Regions from separate parts of the Homo sapiens genome. Here all the other regions are linked to region 3. Evidence: fine-mapped expression QTL. A gene starts in region 3. Each other region holds a variant in brackets. All regions are shown on one strand. Distances are from middle to middle.

The links. PIP is the estimated chance that this variant, and not a neighbour inherited with it, causes the effect. A credible set is the group of variants that fine-mapping cannot tell apart.
Region 1: its variant is the best candidate, but not a certain one, in a credible set for the expression of CASC3 in whole blood (INTERVAL, PIP 0.75).
Region 2: its variant is the best candidate, but not a certain one, in a credible set for the expression of CASC3 in whole blood (INTERVAL, PIP 0.86).

The regions. Positions count from the first base shown.
Region 1 is chr17:40,223,293-40,231,343 of GRCh38, reverse strand. All of the region lies in intron 1 of WIPF2 (WAS/WASL interacting protein family member 2), which reads right to left. Among named protein-coding and RNA genes, the nearest start is that of WIPF2, 8.0 kb to the right of the region's middle. RefSeq lists an enhancer at 6,246-6,817. The variant C/T (reference allele first, on the strand shown) is at 3,762.
Region 2 is chr17:40,079,722-40,087,772 of GRCh38, reverse strand. THRA (thyroid hormone receptor alpha) reads right to left here. Exons shown (of 9, transcript NM_199334.5): 5 at 3,791-3,938; 6 at 2,958-3,163; 7 at 920-1,066. Among named protein-coding and RNA genes, the nearest start is that of NR1D1, 17 kb to the left of the region's middle. The variant G/C (reference allele first, on the strand shown) is at 3,400.
Region 3 is chr17:40,137,232-40,145,282 of GRCh38, reverse strand. CASC3 (CASC3 exon junction complex subunit) reads right to left here and starts at 4,746. Exons shown (of 14, transcript NM_007359.5): 1 at 4,504-4,746; 2 at 4,049-4,076; 3 at 3,676-3,713. The coding sequence starts at 4,734. RefSeq lists enhancers at 4,430-4,729, 4,195-5,135.

The DNA of each region.
Region 1 (8,051 bases), 86 kb before region 3:
TTAAACAGATGCTCCATAAAATGCTGATCCAGACTTCACATGGAGACAAGTGTCATGCCTCATTTCAAAGATAATATATTAAGTCCCAACTCACCACAGATAATCTAATAACAAATCTGTGACTTTCATTGTCAAGGAGTCTCTTCTCTTACATTCTAATACCCTTAAGCCATCAGAAACACAGATGCTCCTTGCTGAAATGCTAGAAAATTTGCACATTTCCGTCCCTTGATCACTAGTGATGGGCTGCTAAGTCAAGAGTCTACTTTAAGTTATAAAAACAGGGCAAGCTGATCCAATTAAACAGAAGTACTAAATCAAACAGGACCATCTGGGTTTTAAGTACTGTGATTTCTGAACAAAAGTCAATACACTTGCAGATAAAAACACTTTCATATATTCAGAATTATAATGGCCCTTGGGCTACCTTGCGTGTCCAACAAGACTTACGTGTCATGCTAAGACATATGGCCTAGATGATGGGTATGACAGTATATTCATCGGTTCAAAATAAAAGAACATCTGTTCTCTCCCTAGCACCATGAAGATTATTTTTAAAACAGTCAACATTCCCTAACAGTAAATAAGTTTTTTCTTTTTTTAAACACTCCTCCCTGCTCCTCCCACTAAAAGTAAATAGGTTTTCTGTTTCCTAAATAGCAAGTCTGGTAAACTAACAATCCCATCATCCCCCATAATCTAAAAATTGTTCCCCAATAAGCCTAATCTCCAAAACAATTTCTAAGATCCTAAAATTTTAAGAGCTAATCCAGCCAACCAAGTTTGATTTGCAGGACCTATGAGAAATCAAGACTAAAAGAATAGGTTTCATCCAGGAAAGTTCTTATAAAAACTGTTTCACTGCACAAGCATCAGACTTCTTTATGACACTGATGGTCTCATCATCAACACTAGTAAAAGAACTGACAGGAAAAAAAAAAGCCCTATTTTAGAAGCTGACCTCAAAATTCACTATCCTATTACTCTTTTAGTTGTTGTTTTTTGAAACAGGGTCTCACTCTGTCTCCGAGGTTGGAGTGCAGTGGTGCTGCAACAGCTCACTGCAACCTCCCTCTCCTGGGGCTCAAGTGATCCTCCTCCCTCAGCCTCCTGAGCGGCTAGAACCACGGGTGCTCATCACCATGCCCAGCTAATATTTTAATTATATAGAGACTGGGGGGTCTCCCTATGTTGCCCAGATTGGTTGTGAACTTCTAGGCTCAAGTGATCCTCCCACCTTGGTCTCCCAAAGTGTTGGTATTACAGGCATGAGCCACCATGCCAGCCTATTTACCCATTTTTTAGGACAGCTCACATTCTGAAGCCTTGCCTCCTACCTGTCTGTTTTTCACTCCCTAAGCTCCAGCCACACTGGAACCTCTTTCAATTCCTCAAAATACAAACATTCTTTCCCTCCTCAGGACATTCACCTGTGCCATCTCCTCTACCTAGGTCAGTCTTTTGTCCTCCCTTCATTCTTAGGTTTCACCCTTAAAAGTCAATTCCTCAGAGACCTTCTCTGACTGCCCTTCCTCTCAATCAACCTGGGATGGGCTAACCATTAGCTGTCTCCACAGCATTTACAGCAACAGTAATAATTATTTGTTTAATAAATGTCTTTGGGCCAGGCACGGTGGCTCACACCTACAATCCCAGCACTTTAGGAGGCCGAGGCAGGAAGATCACTTGAGGTTAGGAGTTTTGAGGCCAGCCTGGCCAACATGGTGAAACCCCATCTCTACTAAAAATACAGAAAAAATTAGCCAGACATGGTGGTGCACCTGTAGTCCCAGCTACTTGGGAGGCTACAGCAGAATGGCTTGAACCTGGGAGGCAGAGGTTGCGGTGAGCCAAGATCATGCCACTGCACTCCAGCCTGGCTAATAGAGCTAGACTCTGTCTAAAACAAATAAATAAATAAATGAATAAATGTCTTTGGCCAGGTGCGGCGGCTCACACCTGTTATCCCAGCACTTTGGGACGCCGAGGTGGGCGGATCACCTGAGGTCAGGAGTTCGAGACCAGCCTAATAAGGAGAAACCCCGTCTCTACTAAAAATACAAAATTAGCCGGGCGTGGTGATGCATGCCTGTAATCCTAGCTACTCGGGAAGCTGAGGCAGGAGAATCGCTTGAACCCGGGAGGCAGAGGTTGCGGTGAGTTGAGATCATGCCATTGCACTCCAGCCTGGGCAACAAGAACAAAACTCATCTAAAAAAAAAAAAAGACCAGCCTGGGCAACTTGGCAAAGCCCCACCTCTACAAAAACTACAAAAATTAGCCATGGTGGCATGCATCTGCAGTCCCAGCTATTTAGGAGGCTAAGGCAAGAGAATCACTTGAGCCCAGGAGGTGGAGGTCGCAGTGAGCCAAGATGGGAATGAAACCTTGTCTAAAAAAAAAAAGTCTTCCACCGTAAGTGGAAGACCAAGTCAGGGCCAGGTGTGGTGGCTCATGCCTGTAATTATGGCACTTCGAGATAGGAGGACTGCTTAAGCCCGAGTTCAAGACCAGCCTAGGCAACAAAGTGAGACCTCACGTCTACAAAAAATTTTAAAAATTGTGCACACACCTGTGGTCCCAGCTACACAGGAGGCTGAGGTGGGAGGACTGCTTGAGCCCAGAAGGTTGAGGCTACAATGAACCATGTTTGCACCACTAAATTCCCGCCTGGGTGACAGAGAGAGACTCTGTCTCAAAAAAAAAAAGACCAAGAAAATTTGTTCACTGCCCTATCTGCATCCCCTGCATCCCCTACCACAGTACTTGGCACACAGTAGGAACTCAAAAATTCTTGTTGAATAAATGAATAACGAACATCAAAAAAAATCAGCTTCAGCAATTCTAGTTCTAAGAATTTACCCTACAGACACAGTCATATATGCAAAGAGCCAAATATATATGCTTCTTCACTGCAGCATAGTTTGTAATAGCAAAAGACTGGAAACTGTGTATGTCTATCAGTGTAAGGTAGGTGCCAAGTATCTTTATTGCTGATAGGGAGTAACAGTCAAAAGAGGTATAAAAATGGCCGGGCGCGGTGGCTCACGCCTGTAATCCCAGCACTTTGGGAGGCCGAGGCGGGCGGATCACGAGGTCAGGAGATCGAGACCATCCCGGCTAAAACGGTGAAACCCCGTCTCTACTAAAAATACAAAAAATTAGCCGGGCGTAGTGGCGGGCGCCTGTAGTCCCAGCTACTTGGGAGGCTGAGGCAGGAGAATGGCGTGAACCCGGGAGGCGGAGCTTGCAGTGAGCCGAGATCCCGCCACTGCACTCCAGCCTGGGCGACAGAGCGAGACTCCGTCTCAAAAAAAAAAAAAAAAAAAAAAACAAAAAGAGGTATAAAAACAAGCAAAAGATACAGATAGTATTAACAGTGTGCTACATTTATTAAAACAACAACAACAAAAAAAAAAACAAGAAATATACATATTTGCTTTATATGTACCTGGTATCTCTGGAACAAACTTTTTTTGTTTTTTGTTTTGTTTTGAGACAAAGTCTTGCTCTGTCACCCAGGCTGGAGTGCAGTGGCACAATTTTAGCTCACCATTCCGCCTCCCAGGTTCAAGTGATTCTTGTGCCTCAGCCTCCCGAGTAACTGGGACTACAGGCACACACCACCATGCCCCGCTAATTTTTATATTCTTAATAGAGACAGGGTTTCACCATGTTGGCCAGGCTGGTCTCCAACTTCTGACCTCAGGTGATCCGCCCGCCTCAGCCTCCCAAAGTGCTGGGATTACAGGTGTGAGCCA[C/T]CGCAACCAGCCTGGAACAGATCTAAAGAAAATAATAATACGAGTTGCCTCTGGGAAGATGAACTGGATTGATAGGAAGACAAACATAGATGTTTCCAAGGGTATTCACTATATACTTTCTTTTTCTTGGCAGGTGAGTTGATACATACTCCTTAGTGGATTCTGACTTCCATGGCCACCATCCTGCTTATATACTTTTTTATCTTTTAAATTTTGTATTATTTATTTAAAATATAACATTTGTGGCCAGGAGCAGTGACTCACACCTGTAATCCCAGCACTTTGGAAGGCCGAGGCAGGCAGATCACGAGGTCAGGAGTTTGAGACCAGCCTGGCCAACATGGTGAAACCCCGTCTCTACTAAAAATACAAAAATTAGCTGGACGTGGTGGCACACACCTGTAATCTCAGCTACTTGACACGGTGAGGCAGGAGATTGCTTGAGCCTGGGAGGCAGAGCTTGCAGTGAGCCCAGATCTTGCCACTCCACTCCAGCCTGGCTGACACAGTGAAACTCTGTCTCAAAAAAAAATAAATAAATAGGCTGGGCGTGGTGGCTCACGCCTGTAATCCCAGCACTTTGGGAGGCTGAGGCGGAAAGATCACTAGGTCAGGAGTTCAAGACCAGCCTGGGCAACAAGGTGAAACCCCACCTCTACTAAAAAATACAAAAATTAGTTGGGCATGGTGGCGTGCACCTGTAATCTCAGCTACTCAGGAGGCTAAGGCAGCAGAATCGCTTGAACTCAGGAGGCAGAGGCTGCAGTGAGCCGAGATTGTGCCATTGCACTCCAGCCTGGGCAACAGAGCAAGACTCAGTCTCAAAAATAATAATAATAAATTTAAAAAATTAAAAAAATAAAATTTGCTAAAAACAGTTCTGTTCTTATTTCTAAGACAAGGAAAGAAGCAGTTTAAATGTCTCACATCTGGATCTTAGATAATAAACATCCTCCCTACTAGGTGAGCACTGGGAGGGCAGGAATGGAAGAAGGAAAAGTCCACTTATCCACAAATCTCAGACATCGCATCTCATACTAGTGTACTACCTTAGAAGAAAATTCCAAAGGCCGGGCACAGTGGCTCATGCCTGTAATCCCAGCACTTTGGGAGGCCAAGGTGGGCGGATCGCGAGGTCAGGAGTTCGAGACCAGTCTGGCCAACATAGTGAAATCCCGTCTCTACTAAAAATACAAAAAAAAAAAAATTAAATTAGCCGGGTGTGGTGGTGTGCGCCTGTAATCCCAGCTACTCGGGAGGCTGAGGCAGGATAATCGCATGAACCCGGGAGGTGGAGGTTGCAGTGAGCTGGGATCGCACCACTGCACTCCAGACTGGCCGACAGAACGAGACTCCATCTCAAAAAAAAAAAAATTTTTTTTTTTTTTTTTTTACCAACTATCCCAATCTGAATACATATGGAGAATGTTTTCACAGTCAGAGGGATTATTGGGAGGAAAAAAAAAGATTATTCGATTCAGCATTTCCAGAAGCACAGAAAGTAGGTCAGTGAATTTGCACTTTAGAAATATCATAATTACTTGCTAAAAACAAATTATTTCCACTGAGGGGCCTCAAAATCCAAATGGCACTCAATTTGAATCCATGAAGCTTAAGAAACTAAATTTTTTTTGAAAATCAATTATAATGGCTGAGCCTGGTGGCTCACACCTATAATCCCAGCACTTTGGGAGGCCGGCAAAAGTTCAAGACCAGGCTGGGCAACATGGCGAAACCCCATCTCTACAAAAAATAAAAATTAGTGAGGCATAGTGGCGTGCGCCTGTAGTCCCAGCTACACAGGAGGCTGAAGTGGGAAGAACACCTGAGCCTGAGCCTGGGGAGGTCGAGGCTACAGATCACGCCGCCACACTCCAGCCTGGGCAAGAGAGAGAGATCCTGTCTCAAAATAAAAAGGGAATGATCTTCACGATCCATCCCAAAACATATTGGAGATAACCCTACCTTTAGCTAACTATCCCCTGAAAAACAAGAGAGTATTTACTAAGTAGAACACATTGTTGGATAGCCATTCCAAATTGCTCTAACTTTGCCAAGCTTAAATGGCAAGGAAGAAACCAATTCCTGGCTCCCCTATTTGATAACTTACATACTTCTGCAGGCTCTTAAGCCAAAATGAGCCAAAATCTTAAAGAGAGTTAAGACTGACATAGACATTAGCAAACATATCACCTTTTTTTCCTATTAACATTGTTGTTCCCCATAAAGGTCTATTCAGCATTTTTTTTTTAGTAGCCCTCTGTAGATATCAAGAAATGCTCATAAATTTAGCCTGTAGTTCCTCAGGCTCAATGGCTTGTGAGAAAAGAAAAAAAAAAAAAAAGTTGGAAATACTGTCTTCTCTTCCACAATGCCCACGAAGCTAGGCAAAGGCAATGATTCTGCATTTAATCACTAGATGAATAAGAAACAGACTTGAATTTAGAAGAAAGATAAAGGACCGCAAGAACATTCAGTAAAGAGTACTGCCTCTATTTCTTTGCAAAGCAGCTCTCAGGATCTGCCAATGAACCTCATTTTGACATGGAACGCCCCATCCACTCTAATCCGGGGCATATCCCTCAAGACACAGTCAGTCAACCGGAACTCTGCCAACTTTTGCTTGGGAGTTGTGTGAAGAATAGTAGCAACAAGAGCCTACTTTGAGAAGGAGATCAACAATCACACTCAAGAAGAAAAGAAGTTATTTGGCAAAGGGATGCATGTTGCCAAAATGTTAGTCACAGCTTCAAGGGCCCAGTTTGTGTCTCTACAACTATTCTTTGCTTTGACAGAGGCCATTATCTGACCCAGGAAACAGCTCAGCTTCTGTCACCCTCCCCATCTGAAGCAGTGAAGAATCCTTTCAATTTGGTAGTATCAAACTGTGACACAGACAAGATGTCCACCAGAGACTAAAAGGGGAGAAAAAATGTGTAATTTGCCACTTTCTACATAGGACTGGCTCAAGCAGAGCAACGGAAAACTGTGACAGGATAGGAAAAATGGAAAATCATTATGTTAAAGAAGCAGGCTGGGCCGGGCGCGGTGGCTCACGCCCGTAATTTCAGCACTTTGGGAGGCCGAGGCGGGTGGATCACAAGGTCAGGAGATCAAGACATCCTCGCTAACAAGTTGAAACCCCGTCTCTACTACAAAAAAAAAAAAAAAAAAAATACAAAAAATCAGCCGGGCGTGGTGGCAGGCGCCTGTAGTCCAGCTCCTCAGGAGGCTGAGGCAGGAGAATGGCGTGAACCTGGGAGGCGGAGCTTGCAGTGAGCCGAGATTGCGCCACTGCACTCCAGCCTGGGGGACAAAGTGAGACTCCGTCTCAAAAAAAAAAAAAAAAAAGAAAAGAAAAGAAAAAAAAAATAAGCAGGCTGTACCAAAAGTCCGCCCAGGAGCACCGAGCCTCCATATGTTATCTCAAAATCCCCTTAAAAAACAAACCAAAAAGGTACACTGTAGGTTGCAATAGCATAATATTAAGCAGGTTTTTACTCCCAAATAAGTACATATATTTTGTAGCCTGCAACTCTTCCTGGGGTTGTAAGAAGACTATGTTTGCTGAAGCTGCCTGAACCAAGAGCCCATGAATTTCACAGTTATTTCAGAGCAGGAAAACAGACTAACATATACCAGGTTACTCTCCCAATCAGAGAACACAAGTAAAGAAAGAACATTTAATAATTTTCTCGGGCCGGGCGCGGTGGCTCACGCCTGTAATCCCAGCACTTTGGGAGGCCGAGACTGGCAGATCACAAGGTCAGAAGTTCGAGACCAGCCTGACCAACACAGTGAAACCTCGTCTCTACAAAAATACAAAAATTAGCCAGGCGTGATGGCACCCAGCTACTCAGGAGGCTGAGGCAGGAGAATCGCTTGAACCTGGGAGGTGGAGGTTGCAGTGAGCAGAGATCATGCCATTGCACTCCAGCCTGGGCAACTGAGCGAGACTCCGTCTCAAAAAAAAAAAAAAAAAACCCAAAAAAAAATTTTCTCTTCAACAGAACAAGACTTCTGTCTCTTGCCTCTTGCCTTTTTTTTTTCCTAAAAACACCTAGTGAGTCTAGAATCTCTTCCCTTCGTAAAAGCCATCAGTAAAACCTGAAAACTCCAATGTTCACACCTCTCCTGCATTTCACCTTGGTGCTATCACATAACTTATCAGTACCAGCTAGGGTAAACACTACTCTAGTATCAAGTGTGAGGTGGAATTAGTAAATGACCAGCCTGGCCAACATGGCAAAACCCTGTCTCTACTAAAAATACAAAAATTAGCCAGGTGGC
Region 2 (8,051 bases), 58 kb after region 3:
AAGAAAAAAAAATTATGCCTGTGAGTTAGCACCCATCATTATCCCCAGCCCACTCCAGATGGGAACACTGAGGCACAGGGGATGGAGGTAACTTACCCCAGGTCACATGGCTAGTAGGGCAGCCTGTCTCCAGCACTAGTGCTCTGGAAAATGAGAACTTTCAGGCTGCCTGGAGTTGGGTGGCCGCATAGACTTGAAGGATGAGGGGCTGTGGAGGGGAGCACTTGGAGCCGGCTGATTTCTTAGAGCAGCCAGACCTTGGCGTGTGTCTGTATGCTGTGTGTGTGTGCCTGTGTGTTTGTGTGTGTGTCTGTATGTATCTATGTGTGTGTCTGCTAGGTGTGTGTGTGTGTGTGTGCCTGTGTGCTGGGTGTGTCTGTGTGTGTGTGTCTGTGTGCTAGGTGTGTGTCTATGTATCTGTGTGTCTGTGTGCTAGGTGTATATGTCTGTGTGTGTGTGTGTGTCTGTATCTGTGTGTGTGTGTCTATGTATCTGTGTGGCTGTGTGCTAGGTGTGTGTGTGTGTGTGCCTGTGTGCTGGGTGTGTGTCTGTGTGTGTGTGTGTGTCTGTGTGCTGGGTGTATATGTCTGTGTGTGTTTCTATGTATCTGTGTGTGTGTTTGTGTACTAGGTGTGTGTGTGTCTGTGTGCTGGGTGTATGTGTGTGTGTATGTGTGTCTGTGTACGTATCTGTATGCTAGGTGTGTGTGTGTGTCCGTGTATGTGTCTGCATGTGTGCCTGTGTGCTGGGTGTATGTGTATGCATGTGTGTGTGTGTGTCTGTGTATGTTATCTGTGTATGTTGACCTACAGGAATTGCTCCTTGTCCAGAGAACCTCAGATGAGCCTGTACTGGGTGACCGGGGGAGCAGGTTTCCCTCCAGCACAGCATCACATCTCTCCCCACTTCTGCCACTCACCTCGGAGAACATGGGCAGTTTTTTGGCAAAGTCCACCACACGGGTGATGGCCGGGGTGATGATCTTGGTAAACTCGCTGAAGGCTTCCAGGTCCACCTTGTCTCCGTCCGGCATGGAGACAATGGGTGACTGGCCAATGTCATCGGGCTAGAGAGAAAGACGGGGGTCAGCTGGGGCCGCAGACCCCTTTCAGCCTCTCACTGAGGCTCCCTGCCCACCAGGGGGAGCTCCAAGGCAGCTTGGGGAAGAGGGGCCGCCCGTGCCTGAGTCCCAGGCCCAAAGCTTTTCCTTCATCTTGAGCAGAGAATAGACCAGAACCAGAGCTCCAAGTCAGCTAATAATAACAACGGTAGTAACAGTAGTAGCAGCTATAATGACTGAATACTTAATATATGATCAGGCATCAGGCTACATGTTTTACATGTCTTATTTCATCCTGACCATAATCCTAAAAGGAATAATTATAATAATCACCATTTCACAGATGTGGAAACTGAGGCATGGGGCAGCTAAATAATAAGGTTAAAGTCATATGACCAGCAAGTGGTAGGACCAGGGTTTGAACTTGGGCAGTCTGACTCGTGACTGTTACACATCTGCTTGGAATCAGAGCCCGTGCCCTTAACAGTGTGCACTGTGCCACCCCCCGGCATGCTCCACCATGAACCAGGTGCTGGTTTTCTGCCTTCCTTCACCACGTATAGCCAACTGTCCATCTCCTCCCAAACTGATCATATTTTTTGAGAGAGGGTCTTGCTCTGTTGCCTGGGCTGGAGTGCAGCGGTGTAATCATGGCTTACTGCAGCCTCGACCTCCCAGGCTTAGGGGATCCTCCTGCCTCAGCCTCCCGAGTAGCTGGGACCACAGGCACACACCCCCATGCCCAGCTAATTTTAAAATTATTCGTAGAGAGGCCGGGAGCAGTAGCTCACACCTGTAATCCCAGCACTTTGGGAGGCCAAGGCAGGCAGATCACCTGAGGTTGCGAGTTCAGACAAGCCTGACCAACATGGAGAAACACCGTCTCTACTAAAAATACAAAATTAGCCGGGCGTGGTGGCGCACGCCTGTAATCCCAGCTATTTGGGAAGCTGAGGCAGGAGAATCGCTTGAAGCCGGGAGGTAGAGGTTGCGGTGAGCCAAGACTGTGCCACTGCACTCCAGCCTGGACAACAAGAGCGAAACTCCAACTCAAAAAAAAAAAAAAATTATTCATAGAGGGTGGGCATGGTGGCTCACATCTTGTAATCACAGCACTTTGGGAGGCCGAGGCGGGTGGATCACTTGAGGTCAGGAGTTCGAGACCAGCCTGGTCAACATGGTGAAACCCTGTCTCTACTAAAAACACAAAAATTAGCCAGGCATGGTGGCCAGTGCCTGTAATCCCAACTACTCGGGAGACGGAGGCGGGAGAATCGCTTGAACCCAGGAGGCGGAGGTTGCGGTGAGCCGAGATCGTGCCACTGCACTCTAGCCTGGGTGAGAGTGAGACTCCGTATCAAAAAAAAAAAAAATTATTCATAGAGGTGGGATCTCTGTATGTTACCCAGACTGGTCTCAAACTCCTGGGCTCAAGCGATCCTCCCACCTTGGTCTCACAAATTGCTGGGATTACAGGCATGAGCCACTGCACCTGGTCCCAAACTCATCATTTACTTAGCAACTAGCTTGACCAGGGCCTAACATAATGCCTGGCACCCAGCAGGTGCTCAAAAATACTGTGACATAACTGTATCCTTACCCTCTCCTCCCAGTCACTAAGGGCAGGAAAAAGAAGAAAGGTCGCTCCCGCTCCCTGGAAATTCGATGAGGAAGGCAAGGCCCTGTCCTCATTGAGCTCCCAGTTGGATGGAGTAGACAGTCCAGACAGCAAGGACACAAACACAAGTGTATAAAATCTGGACAGCAAAAGTGTGAAGAGTATGTATTTTGGGTTGGATTACACTAAGAAGACTTCCTGGAGGAGGCAAGACTCCGAGCTCACTCTCTTCTCCCTGCCACCTGGCTACTGCTCTCCCCATGCCCCCTTTCTCCTTACCAGGAATTTCCGCCTCTGTTTCCAATGGCTGCCCTGGGCATTGGTGCTGCGATGGGCCTCTGTGGCAATGTGGATCAGATCCCACTCTTCAGGAGTGGGCTCTGGTCGCTGCTGCAGTGATCGGATCATCTCCTCCTTCCGCCGCCGCTCCCGGTTCTGCTCAATCAGCTTACGCTTGGCCACCCGCTTCGAGTCATCTAGAACCACTGTGAACAGAGAGGCACAAGGTCTAACGCATGGCACCCTCCATCCCCTTTCCATAATGCTCCCGGAAACTACTCTTCCTAGAGTACAGGTTGGAGAAACCGAGGGCCATGGAGGCTAAATGACTTCCCAAATCACCTAGCAGTTGGGCAGCACAACCCGGATCATGATTAATCCCCGGGACCATGTCAACAACAGTTTGGGCTGATCCAGATGAATATCATGTTCTGGTCTAACG[G/C]ATTATGGTGACGGTGGTTACTCGAATATCCTGCCACCCAATCCCCAGCCAATGGAAGATGCCCTGTCTCATCTAGAAGTGGGGTGCCTTCGCTGGGAGTCAAGAACAGTGTGCTAGAGTGGGTGCCCAGGAGCTCTTTCTACCAAACGACTCCCTCTCTAAGGCCCTCGAGTGTTGTAAGGCAGGTAGGCATTGGGGCCCACACAGGGATCCTGTTTCCTTTTGCGCAGGAAGGAGGACAGCAAGGACCAAGACACTGAACATTCTGACCTAGACTGGATTGCCACTCTGCCCTGTGGGCTCTGAGGGTACCCTGGAAGGAAGCTGCCCTCCCAGAACTCATCCCCACCCCAGGCCACCTGGCTCTATTCCCTCCACCTGGGCCCCTTACAGTCCATGGCCATGCCCACGGCGATGCACTTCTTGAAGCGGCACAGCTGGCACTGATTGCGGGTGATCTTGTCAATGACACAGCAGCTGTCATATTTGCAGGAATAGGTGGGATGGAGGTTCTTCTGGATTGTGCGGCGAAAGAAGCCCTGGGGTGGGGGAGATGGAGCAGGCTGTGATCATGACATGGCTTCCCCTTCCTGAACCAACCATGCAGTTTACTAGGGGTCAGGGGTGGAGAGCAAGGAAGGCAAGATCAGTGAGGGGACCTGGCATCCTCCTGACACCATGAGCCCAAGATTACTAGGCTCAAGGACCTGAGAAATATATGCCCTCAGCCCCCAGGCTGCTGAGGGGTTGGGGGTGTCTGGGTAGTGTTTGTGGCAGAGGCAGGAATGATGTCTAGAGCAGGCAGCTTTGAACCTGGGATAATGTGAGGCCTTAAGGAATAGCAGCTTTGGAAATCCAAGTCGCCGGGCGCGGTGGCGCACGCATGTAATCCCAACACTTTGGGAGGCCGAGGTGGGCAGATCAACTGAGGTCGGGAGTTCGAGACCAGCCTGACCAACATGAAGAAACCCTGTCTCTACTAAAAATAGAAAATTAGCCGGGCATGAGGTTGGGTGCAGTGGCTCATGCCTATAATCCCAGAACTTTGGGAGGCCAAGGCGGATGAATCATGAGGTCAGGAGTTCAAGATCACCCTGGCCAACATGGTGAAACCCTGTCTCTACTAAAAGTATAAAAATTGGGCGTAGGCCGGGCGCGGTGGCTTATGCCTGTAATCCCAGCACTTTGGGAGGCTGAGGCAGGCGGATCACAAGGTCAGGAGATCGAGACCATCCTGGCTAACACGGTGAAACCCTGTCTCTACTAAAAATACAAAAAAAATAGCCGGGCATGGTGGTGGGCGCTGTAGTCCCAGCTACTCGGGAGGCTGAGGCAGGAGAATGGCGTGAACCCAGGAGGTGGAGCTTGCCACGAGCCAAGATCGCGCCACTGCACTCCAGGCTGGGTGACAGAGCAAGACTCCGTATAAAAAAAAAAAAAATTACCCGGGCGTGGTGGTGGGCGCCTGTAATCCCAGCTACTCAGGAGGCTGAGGCAGAGAATTGCTTGAACCCAGGACACAGAGGTTGCAGTGAGCCAAGATCGCGCCACTGCATTCCAGCCTGGGTGACAGAATGAGACTCCATCTCAAAAAAAAAAAAAAAAAAAAAAAAAAGCATGCGATTCTATAGTGTAGCAGTTATCACATCTGCTTTACATGCAGAAGGTCCTAGGTTTGAGCCGCGGTGGAACCACGGCGGGGTCCACCCCTTGGCCGGGCGCGGTGGCTCATGCCTGTAATCCCAGCACTTTGGGAGGCCCAGGCGGGCAGACTGCCTGAAGTCAGGAGTTCAAGACCAGCCTGGCCAACATGGTGAAACCCCATCTCTACTAAAAATATAAAAATTAGCTGGGCCTGCCCCTGTAATCCCAGCTACTCGGGAGGCTGAGGCAGGAGAATCGCTTGAACCCAGGAGGTGGAGCTCGCATTGCACTCCAGCCTGGGTGACAAGAGTGAGACTTCATCTCAAAAAAGAAAAAAAAAAGAAAAAATTAGCCGGGAATGGTGGCACATGCCTGTAATCCCAGCTACTTGGGAGGCTGAGGCAGAAGAATTGCTTGAACCCAGGAAGCAGAGGTTGCGGTGAGCCAAGATTGTGCCATTGCACTCTAGTCTGGGCAACAAGAGCAAAACTCTGTCTCAAAAAAAAAAAAAAAAAAAAAAAAGGAAATCCAAGTAAAACCTCATTTTCCATTTTGCTAAATGACTTTAAAAACAACACTGACCCAAAAACCATTCTCATATATGTTGCCTGTTGTCCATGCAGGTGGAATTCATAAAACAGGGGAACCAAAAAAGTCAAGGAAAGGGACTGAGTATGAACTCTAGTAGGGGAAGAGAAAAATTTCAATTCTCTACATTGGGATTCACCTTTATTTTATTTTTTTAATTTAATTTTTTTTTTCTTTTTGAGATGAAGTTTCACTCTGTCACCCAGGCTGGAGTGCAGTGGTGTGATCTCAGCTTACTGCAACCTCCACCTCCCAGGTACAAGCAATTCTCCTGCCTCAGCCTCCCGAGTAGCTGGGACTACAGGTGCCCACCATTACGCCCGGCTAATTTTTGTATTTTTATAGAGATGGGGTTTCACCATGTTGGCCAGGCTGGTCTCGAACTCCTGACCTCAGGTGATCTGCCCACCTCGGCCTCCCAAAGTGCTGGGATTACAGGCGTGAGCCACCGCACCCAGCCTCGCCTTTATTTTAAAGGAAACACCTCAAAACTCAAGATGATTGCAATAATATGAAGAATTAGTATTTTTTCATGTTTACAATGTGTCAGTCACTTAGTAAACATAAGCCTTGCTGGCCAGGTGCAATGACTCACACCTGTAATCCCAGCACTCTGGGAGGCTGAGGCAGGCAGATCACTTGAGGCCAGGAGTTCAAGATCAAGACCAGCCTGTCCAACATAGCAAAACCCCATCTCTACTAAAAATACACAAATTGGCCAGGGGTTGTGGCGTGCACCTATAATCCCAGCTACTCTGGAGGCTGAGGTGGGAGGATTGCTTAGGATTGCTTGAGACCAGGAGGTCAAGGCTGCAGTGAGCTATGATCGCACCACTGCACTCCAACCTGGGTGACAGAGACCCCATTACAAACAAAAACAAAAACCCAAAAGATAAGCCTTGTCTTTCATGGAACATCACAGTGAACCCTCCAGACAACCCTATGAGGTAGGAACTGTTACTGCCTCCACTTTGCAGACAAGGAAACTGAAGCTTGGTGAGATGAAGCAATTTGCCCAAAGTCATGTGGCCGGTGGGCAGCAGAGTCAGAACTGGGCCTCAGGTATGGGACACCAACGTCTGAGCTCTCAGATTCCAGGGGCATTAAAATCACCAAAGGCAGCCGAGTGCGGTGGCTCACGCCTGTAATCCCAGCTCTTTGGGAGGCTGAGGTGGGTGGATCACGAGGTCAGGAGTTCAAGACCAACGTGGCCAACATCGTGAAACCTTGTCTCTACTAAAAATACAAAAAATTAGCCAGGTGAGGTGGCAGGCACCTGTAATCCCAGCTACTCAGGAGGCTGAGGCAGGACAAGTGCTTGAACCTGGGAGGCAGAGGTTGCAGTGAGCCAAGATCGCGCCACTGCACTCCAGCCTGGGTGACAGAGTGAGACTCCGTCTTGAAAAAAAAAAAAAAAAAAAAAAGTCACCAAAGGCACCTACCAAAGATACAGATTCCTGGGCCTCACTCCAGAACTACAAAATAAAACTATCCAAGGGTGGGGCCAAGGCATCTCTGTCTTTTCAGGGTGCTTCCCTGGGACTCAGATGTCCGTGAGAGTAAAAGATCCTTTCTCTATGCTACACTGTTTGTATTGCTTCCAGAAGGATTGTATTGCTTCTGCTAGGGAACTCTAAATCCCTCATGGTCTTGGTTTGGTTGACATCAAGAAAGAGAGAGAAACTTCAAGCCTTAAACTTTTTTTCCGTTTTTTTTTTTTGTTTGTTTTTTGTTTTTAAGACAGGGTCTTGTTCTGTCGCCCAGGCTGGAGTGCAATGGCTTAATCACAGCTCACAGCAGCTTCGACCTCCCAGCCTCAAGTGATCGTCCTACCTCAGCTGCCTGAGTAGCTGGGACCACAGGTGTGTGTGCACCACCATGCCTGGCTACTTTAAAAATTTTTTTGTATGGACAGGGTCTCACTATGTTGCCCAGGCTGTTCTTAAACTCCTGGGCTCAAGCAATCCTCCCACCTTGGCCTCCTAAAGTGTTTGGATTACAGGCGTGAGCTACTATACCTGGCCTTTAACATATAAATCATTCTGTTTCTTTTTTTTTTTATTTTGAGACAGAGTATCACTCTGTCGCTCTGTCACCCAGGCTGGAGTACACTGACTTAATCTCCACTCTCACTGTAACCTCCATCTCCCAAGTTCAAGAGATTCTCCTGCCTCAGCCTCCCAAGTAGGTGGGATTACAGGCGTACATCACTACACCTGGCCAATTTTGGTATTTTTAGTAGAGACAGGCTTTTACCATGTTGGCCAGGATGGTCTCAAATTCCTGACCTTACTCATTCGTTCATTTGCTCATTCATAATCCCTCCTCTGTCACTCACAAGAAAATTGCCTAACTTCTCTGAGTCTCAGTTTCTTCATCTATAAAATGGGGATAATCATTTTATCTACCTTATAGCACTG
Region 3 (8,051 bases):
AGAAATCACTTGAACCAGGCGGGGCGGAGGCTGCAGTGAGCCGAGATTGCACCACCGCACTCCAGCCTGGCAACGGAATGAGACTCCGTCTTAAAAAACAAAACAAAACAAAACAAAAAAAATGGGGGGCACGGTGGCTCATGCCTGTAATCCCAGCACCTTGGGAGGCCGAGGTGGGTGGGTCACCTGAGGTCAGGAGTTCGAGACCAGCTTGACCAACATGGTGAAACCCCATCTCTACTAAAAACACAAAAATTAGGCGGGCGTGGTGGCATGCGCCTATAATCCCAGCTACTCGGGAGGCTGAGGCAGGAGAATCGCTTGAACCCAGGAGGCAGAGGTTGCAGTGAGCTGAGATCGAGCCATTGCACTCCAGCCTGGGTAACAGAGCAATACTCCATCTCAATAAAAAAAAAAAAAACTTAATTTTTTTTTTTTTTTGGCTGGGTATGGTGGCTCATGCTTGTAATCTCAGCACTTCAGGAGGTCAAGGCAGGAGGACTGGTTGAACCCAGCAGTTTGAGGTTGCAGTGAGCTGTGACCCCACAACTGCACTCCAGCCTGGGTGACTGGGCAACAGAGTGAGACCCTGCCTCTTTTTTAAAAAAAAAAAAAAAAAAAAAAGAGGGCTGGGCACAGTGGCTCACACCCGTAATCCACCTGTAATCCCGGTACTTTGGGAAGCTGAGGCGGACGGATCACCTGAGTTCACGAGTTCATGACCAGCCTGGCCAACATGGTAAAACCCCGTCTCTACTACAAATACAAAAATTAGCTGGGTGTGGTGGTGTGCACCTGTAATCCCAGCTACTTGGGAAGCTGAGACAGGAGAATCGCTTGAACCCGGGAGGTGGAGGTTGCAGCGAGCTAAGATCATGCCACTGCACTCTTGCCTGGGTTACAGAGCAAGACTCCATCTCAAGCAAAAAAAAAAAAAGAAAAAGAAAGTTTTTAATTTTTGTTGAGTACACAGTAGGTATATATTTATGTAGTACATGAGTTTTGTTTTTGTTTTTGTTTTTTGAGACAGAGTTTCCCTCTTGTTGCCCAGGATGAAGTGCAATGGCACAATCTTGGCTCACTGCAACCTCCACCTCCTGGGTTCAAGTGATTCTCCTGCCTCAGCCTCCTGAGTCGCTGGGATTACAGGCACCTGCCACCACGCCTACTTAATTTTTCTTATTTTCAGTAGAGACTGAAAATGGGTTTCGCCATGTTGGCCAGGCTAGTCTCGAACTCCTGACCGCAGGTGATTCACCCGCCTCGGCCTCCCAAAGTGCTGGGATTACAGGTGTGAGCCACCAAGCCCGGCCCATGAGATATTTTTATATAGATATACAATGTGTAATAATCATGTAAGGGTAAATGGGGTATGGATCGCCTCAAGCATTTATCCTTTGTTACAAACAATTCAATTACGTTCTTTTATTAATATATATATATACTTTTTTTTTGAGATGGAGTCTTGCCCTGTCACCAGGCTGGAGTGCAGTGGCTTGATTTCGGCTCACTGCAACCTCTGCCTCCCGGATTCAAGCGATTCTCCTGCCTCAGCCTCCTGAGTAGCTGGGACTACAGGGGCGTGCAAGCACGCCCAGCTAATTTTTGTATTTTTAGTAGAGACGAGATTTCACCATGTTGGCCAGGATGGTCTCAATCTCTTGACCTTGTTATCCACCCACCTCAGCCTCCCGAAGTGCTGGGATTACAGGCATGAGCCACTGTGCCCAGCCAATAGTTATTTTTAAATGTACAATAAGTTACTGGTTGACTGTAGTCACCATGTTGCAAATATGAAATTCTAGATCTTAGTCATTTTTATTTTTTAAATTTTCTGAGACAAGAGTCTTGCTCTGTTGCCCAGGCTGGAGTACAGTGGTGTGATTATGGCTCACTGCCACCTCCACCTCCCAGGCTCAAGGGATTCTCCTGCCTCAGCCACTTGAGTAGCTGGAATTACAGGCATGCGGGACCATGAGCTGCTAATTTTTGTATTTTTAGTAGAGATGGAGTTTTGCCATGTTGGCCAGGCTGGTCTTGACCTCCTAGCCTCAAGTGACTGGCCCACCTTGGCCTCCCACAGTGCTGGGATTACAGGTGTGAGCCATCGCGCTGGGTTTAGATCTTATTCATTCTAATTACTATTCTTTTTGTACCCCTACAGCCTTTCTTTTATTTATTTATTTTTTTTTTTTTGAGACAGAGTCTCACTCTGTCACCCAGGTAGCAGTGCAGTGGCATGATTTCAGCTCACTGCCACCTCCATCTCCTGGGATCAAACGATTTTCGTGTCTCAGCCTCCCAAGTAGCTGCGATTACAGGCATGCATCACCACACCAAGCTAATTTTTGTATTTTTTAGTAGAGATGGGTTTTTTTTTTTGAGACGGAGTCTTGCTCTGTCACCCAGGCTGGAGTGCAGTGGCACAATCTCAGCTCACTGCAAGCTCCGCCTCCCGGATTCACACCATTTTCCTGCCTCAGCCTCCCGAGTAGCTGGGACTACAGGCGCCCGCCACCACGCCCAGCTAATTTATTATTATTTTTTTTTGTATTTTTAGTAGGGACGGGGTTTCACCATGTTAGCCAGGACGGTTTCGATCTCCTGACCTCGTGATCCGCCCGCCTGGGCCTCACAAAGTGCTGGGATTATAGGCGTGAGCCACCGCGCCGGGCCAGAGATGGAGTTTCACCATTTTGGCCACGTTGGTCTCAAACTCCTGGCCTCAAGTGATCCGTCTGCCTCAGCCTTCCAAAGTGCTGGGATTACAGGCGTGAGCCACTGCTCCCGGCCCCTGTGGGCTTTCTTGACTGTTGTTCTCTCTGCCTAGAACACATCTTACCCAGCCAACTGTTTAATCTTTCCCGACTGCCTAAGATGGATTCAGTACCCAGCTGTAACACCCTACTTAGCCCTATCCCAGTGCTATCCCCTATCAGCAAGTGGTACAATTGCTTGAATGTTTGTCTGACTTCCTTATTGAGTTGTAAGATCTCTAAAGATAGGAATTTTGTTATAGTGTTCACTATTCCATCCTCAAGGGCTTAACAGATTCTAAAATGTAGTAACAGTTCTAAAAATGTATAGACAAAATCTTTGATCCACCATCCAATTCCCCCTATATATAATCCCATTACCAGAACTCAGGAGTCCACTCAACAACCCAGGAAACAAACACTTACTCTGATGGCATCTCTAGTAGTTTATCCAAAAGACAGGAAACTTTCTCCTAAAAACAGAAAAATCCCCACCTATAAAATGATGGATGCTCTTGGCACAAAACATTCCGAATCCTACCCTTTCAAAGTCTTCAGATAGATTTGGAAAAAAATAACCAATTGGCTGGCTTCTCAACCTACACTGCATAAAACAAACTGTCAAACATCTTTCAGAGGACTTCAAGATATCCTCACTCTCTTATTTAGAACCTCATATTCTTCAGACAGGAAGAGAAGCCAACTAACAGTATAACACCTGTGGCTTGAGACGGCGTGCCCCAAGTTTTCCCTAGGTCTAAAGTGAACAAGACCTTCTGTAACACTTTTTCAGAAGCATAAATGAAGAATACACAAGAGGATAAACACGGAGGTCATGGTACGTTTGCAACGAAGGTGTGTACACGTTTTTAAAAAGCATTTCTGATCTATACCATAGGAAAAAACCTGTCATACTCACTTCCGAGTCTTCTGCACTTTCATAATCCGAGAGAACAGCTGAAATAAAACAGAAATATGTGGAAAAAAAGAAACCCAGAAACATTTTTTGGCTGCTTATTACAGGTCAGACTAAGAGTCTCATTTAATTCTGACATCAACCTACAACGTGGATAAAATTATAGTCCCCACTTACAAAAGGAGAAACAGGCTCAGAGGGTAACTTGCTGAAGACTATACTGCTAAAGCCTATGCTCTTAACCACTATGTTACAAAAAGGCACTCTGTGGCCCTAAATCCGTGACAGTGTGTGAGAATGTCGATGTTGGAAATAGATGACCTGAGTTTATGTTAAAAAAAACTCTTGTCCTAATGGGGTAAAAGATGCTACTCACCATCACCTTCAATGCCATCTTCACTCTCCTGAAAGAAAGCAGAAGACATGGGTTAGTTCTGTGATTTCCAGAGGTGGGGAGCCCAATAAAGAAATGTGGGTGAAAAGCTGAAGATTCAGCACAAAATGGTTGGAGAGGGAGACAGAGATAGGTAAATCTTTATCAAGTAGTAGCCAAGGCAGGTCTGGTCTCCTTCCCTCCAGCCCCGACTTCTGAATAAAACATCCGCTTTCCATCTCCAGCGGCTCTACCATCCTCCCAGAAACCCCCAATCCTTCTTCTTCCCTTGGAACTCCGGATGCAAACTCGCATTGGGATAACTCCCCTTTTCTCTCAAAAACAAAAAAAAGTCCCAGTATCTACTATCAACTCACAGACTACCTAGCATCACCTACACCCCGCCCCCGGCCGGCTCGCCGCCCGGTCCCCACCCCGCCCCGCCTGCGCGCACTCACACACTCCGACTCCTCAGCACTCTTGGCGCCCCCGCTCTCCACCCGCCGCAGATGAAGGGCCCCGGTTCGGCCTCCGCGCTGTGAAGGCAGAGAGCCGCTGCCGCCGCCTCCGGCGCTACCGCTGCAGCTCCCGCCTCCCCGCAACGGGGAGCCGCCGCTGTCGGAGCCCGAAGCACCAGATTCCTCGTCCTCGGTGTCTTGCGAAGCGCGCTGCCGCCGCCGGTCCGCCATCTTACGGAGAACGGCCACCACCGGCGAGGTACTTACGCACCGCGCCCGTCGCAGAGGCTGCTGGGAGGCTGGATAGCTAGTCCCGGCGTGCTACGCGTGCGGCGCTCGGCCATCCCGCTGTGTGTGTGTGTGTGTGTGTGTGTGTGTGTGTGTGTGTGTGTGTGTGTGTGTGTGTTGGGGTGTGTGTGTGTGTGTTGGGGTGTGTGTGTGTGTGTGTGTGTGTGTGTGTGTTGGGGGAGGGGCGGGGCACTGGGCGGGGCCTAGGCCTGCGGCACGTTTGCGGCCGACCCGGATTACGTCTATCGGTGATGTAAGGGGGCGTGGCGCGGCTCCTGACTTCCCTTGGGCAGGCCTAGGGCGAGGGGAATTGAGACTTCAGCAGCCTCCCGGGTTCCTGGCCCGGCCATCTTGGGCTTCCCGAGTGGAAGGAGTCAACCTGTCACAGCTTCACTGCAACACTAGGGCTGTTTCATGGTTTTCTGTTTCCATTTCTCACTTCTACCTACGTTTGAAGCAGGTCAATTTACTGCATTCCTTTGCTTGGTAAAATCACGAATCAAGGTAAATCTTAAAAGCTGTAGTGCTGCGTCAGATTTGCTGCACCAGCCTTGTTTAAGATAACGGGCGAAGGAGAAACCAGTTGTCTGCAGTGAAGCCAGAGGACTTCTTGTTGCAGCGTTTTCTCTGTGTTCTCATTTCCTCTTCACGTTTCTTCCCACCCCAGCCATCACCTGTCCCAAAGTGCAGGCTGGTATGATGCCAGTATTACCGGTTTTGTTTTGGCTTTTTCGAGGCAGGGTCTCACTCTGTTGCCCAGGCTGGAGTGCAGTAGCGCGGCTCACTGCAGCCTTGACCTCCCAGGCACAGGTGACCTCCTTGCCTTAGCTTCCTTAGTAGTTGGGACAACGGGCACACACTACCACACCCGGCTAATTTTTCTGTTTTTTGTAGAGATGGGGTCTCGCTCTTGCCCAGGCTTGTCTCCTGGCTGGGATCAAGCGATCCTTTCGTCTCAGCCTCCCAAAGTGCTGGGACTACAGGCATGAGCTACTGCCCTTGTCAGGATTTTAGAACCTATTTAAAAATAAATGGTCAGTAGAAACAGATGTTGATTCAAAATCCTGACATTATTTCCTTCTTAAGGTTTATGGAAATTATTTCATTTTGGCAAGGCATTGGCCACCATTGAAAAGAATCAGTGTGTTTTCTTTGGACCATTATAAGGATATACAAAGTGCATGAGCTAAGTTTTTAGTGCACCTACAGGAGTGCACGTTAATAATGTATGTTATCAAACAAAGGCCACCATGGCATAGAATTCTTCCCTGAGTAAAATATTTTTTTTTTTTTTGAGAGGGAGTCTCACTCTGTCTGTCGCCCAGGCTGGGGTGCAGTGGGGTGATCTCGGCCCACTGAAAGCTCCGTCTCCCGGGTTCACGCCATTCTCCTGCCTCAGCCTCCCGAGTAGCTGGGACTACAGGTGTCTGCCGCCAGGCCCGACTAACTTTTTATGTTTTTAGTAGAGATGAGGTTTCACCGTGTTAGCCAGGATGGTCTCGATCTCCTGACCTCGTGATCCGCCGTTCTTGGCCTCCCAAAGTGCTGGGATTACAGGCGTGAGCCACCGCGCCCGGCCTTTCCTGAGTAAAATTTTTATAAATGACATGGTTAAGGATCCTGATGTTTATCAAATTTATAGATAACATGAAACTGGAAGTAATTATGAATGCCTTCAGAGATGAAAGGAAAATTCAAGGCCGGGCGCGGTGGCTCACGCCTGTAATCCTAGCACTTTGGGAGGCCGAGGCGGGCAGATCACGAGGTCAGGAGATCAAGACCATCCTGGCTAACACGGTGAAACCCCGTCTCTACTAAAAATAAAAAAAAATAGACGGGCGTGGTGGCAGGCGCCTGTAGTCCCAGCTATTCGGGAGGCTGAGGCAGAATGGCGTGAACCCGGTAGGCGGAGCTTGCAGTGAGCCGAGATCGCGCCACTGCACTCCAGCCTGGGAGACAAAGAGATTCTGTTTCAAAAAAAAGAAAAAAAGAAAATTCAAACAATCTCAGCTAATTAGACAAGTGGCCAAACGTGACAACTTATAAGTCCAGCTCCAAAAGCCAACTGCCTGAGTTCAAAATGGAGGATAATATGATTTAATAAGTGTTAAAGAAAAAGAACCTGGAGGATCTTATCGATCACAGACTAAATTGGTGCAAATAAGGCTGCCAAGTTTAGTGTCTAAATAAGGAAAGTGATAGTCTGCCACTTTGTCCTTCAGTTGTTTAGTCTGGGTCCAGTTTTTTTTTTTTTTTTTGAGGGGGACGGAGTCTCGCTCTGTCGCCCAGGCTGGAGTGGAGTGGTGCGATCTGGGCTCACTGCAACCTCCGCCTTTCAGGTTCAAGCGATTCTCCTGCCTCAGCCTCCTGTGTAGCTGGGATTACAGGCGCGCACCACCACGCCCAGCTAATTTTTGTATTTTTAGTAGAGACGGGGTTTCACCATGTTGGTCAGGCTGCTCTTGAACTCCTGACCTCGTGATCCACCCGCCTTGGCCTCCCAAAGTGCTGGGATTACAGGCCTGAGCCACCGCGCCGGGCCTGGAGCCCACAGCAATCTTTAACTAGGGACTATGAAGAAAGGAGGGATTGGTCTTTTTTTCATCATCCTAGAAGGCAAAGCAAAAACCAGTGAGTTTAAGTTACAAGAAGTTAGATTTTTTGTCAACAAGCAAGAATTTTCAAACACTTAGGGGGAAAAATGTATGTAGAAAAAGTGTTGAAGCACAGCCTGGAATTTGCTTGTCTGGAGTGTTATCAAGGGTAAATCACATATCGGGGTCACACTAGATGACCTCTAATGTCTTTCCAGCTATAAGATTTTGTTAACTTACGAAGTATCCTATAATCTCGTTTCTAAAATTGCTAATTATACTTTTTTTTTTTTGGAGTTGGAGTCTCCCTCTATCACCCAGGCTGGAGTGCAATGGCATGATCTCGGCTCACTGCAACCTCTGCCTCCTGGGTTCAAGCAATTCTCCTGCCTCAGCCTCCCGAGTAGCTGGGATTACAGGTGCCTGTCACCAAGCCTGGCTAATTTATTTTATTTTTAGTAGAGACAGGGTTTCACCGTGTTGGCCAAGCTGGTTTCGAACTTCTGACCTCAGGTGATCTACCCACCTCAGTCTCCCAAAGTGGCTGGGATTACAAATGTGAGCCAACACGCCCGACCCTTTTTTTTTGTTGGGGGTGGGTGGGATGGAGTCTCGCTGTCACCCAGGCTGAAGTGCAGCAGCTTGATCTTGGCTTACCACAACTTC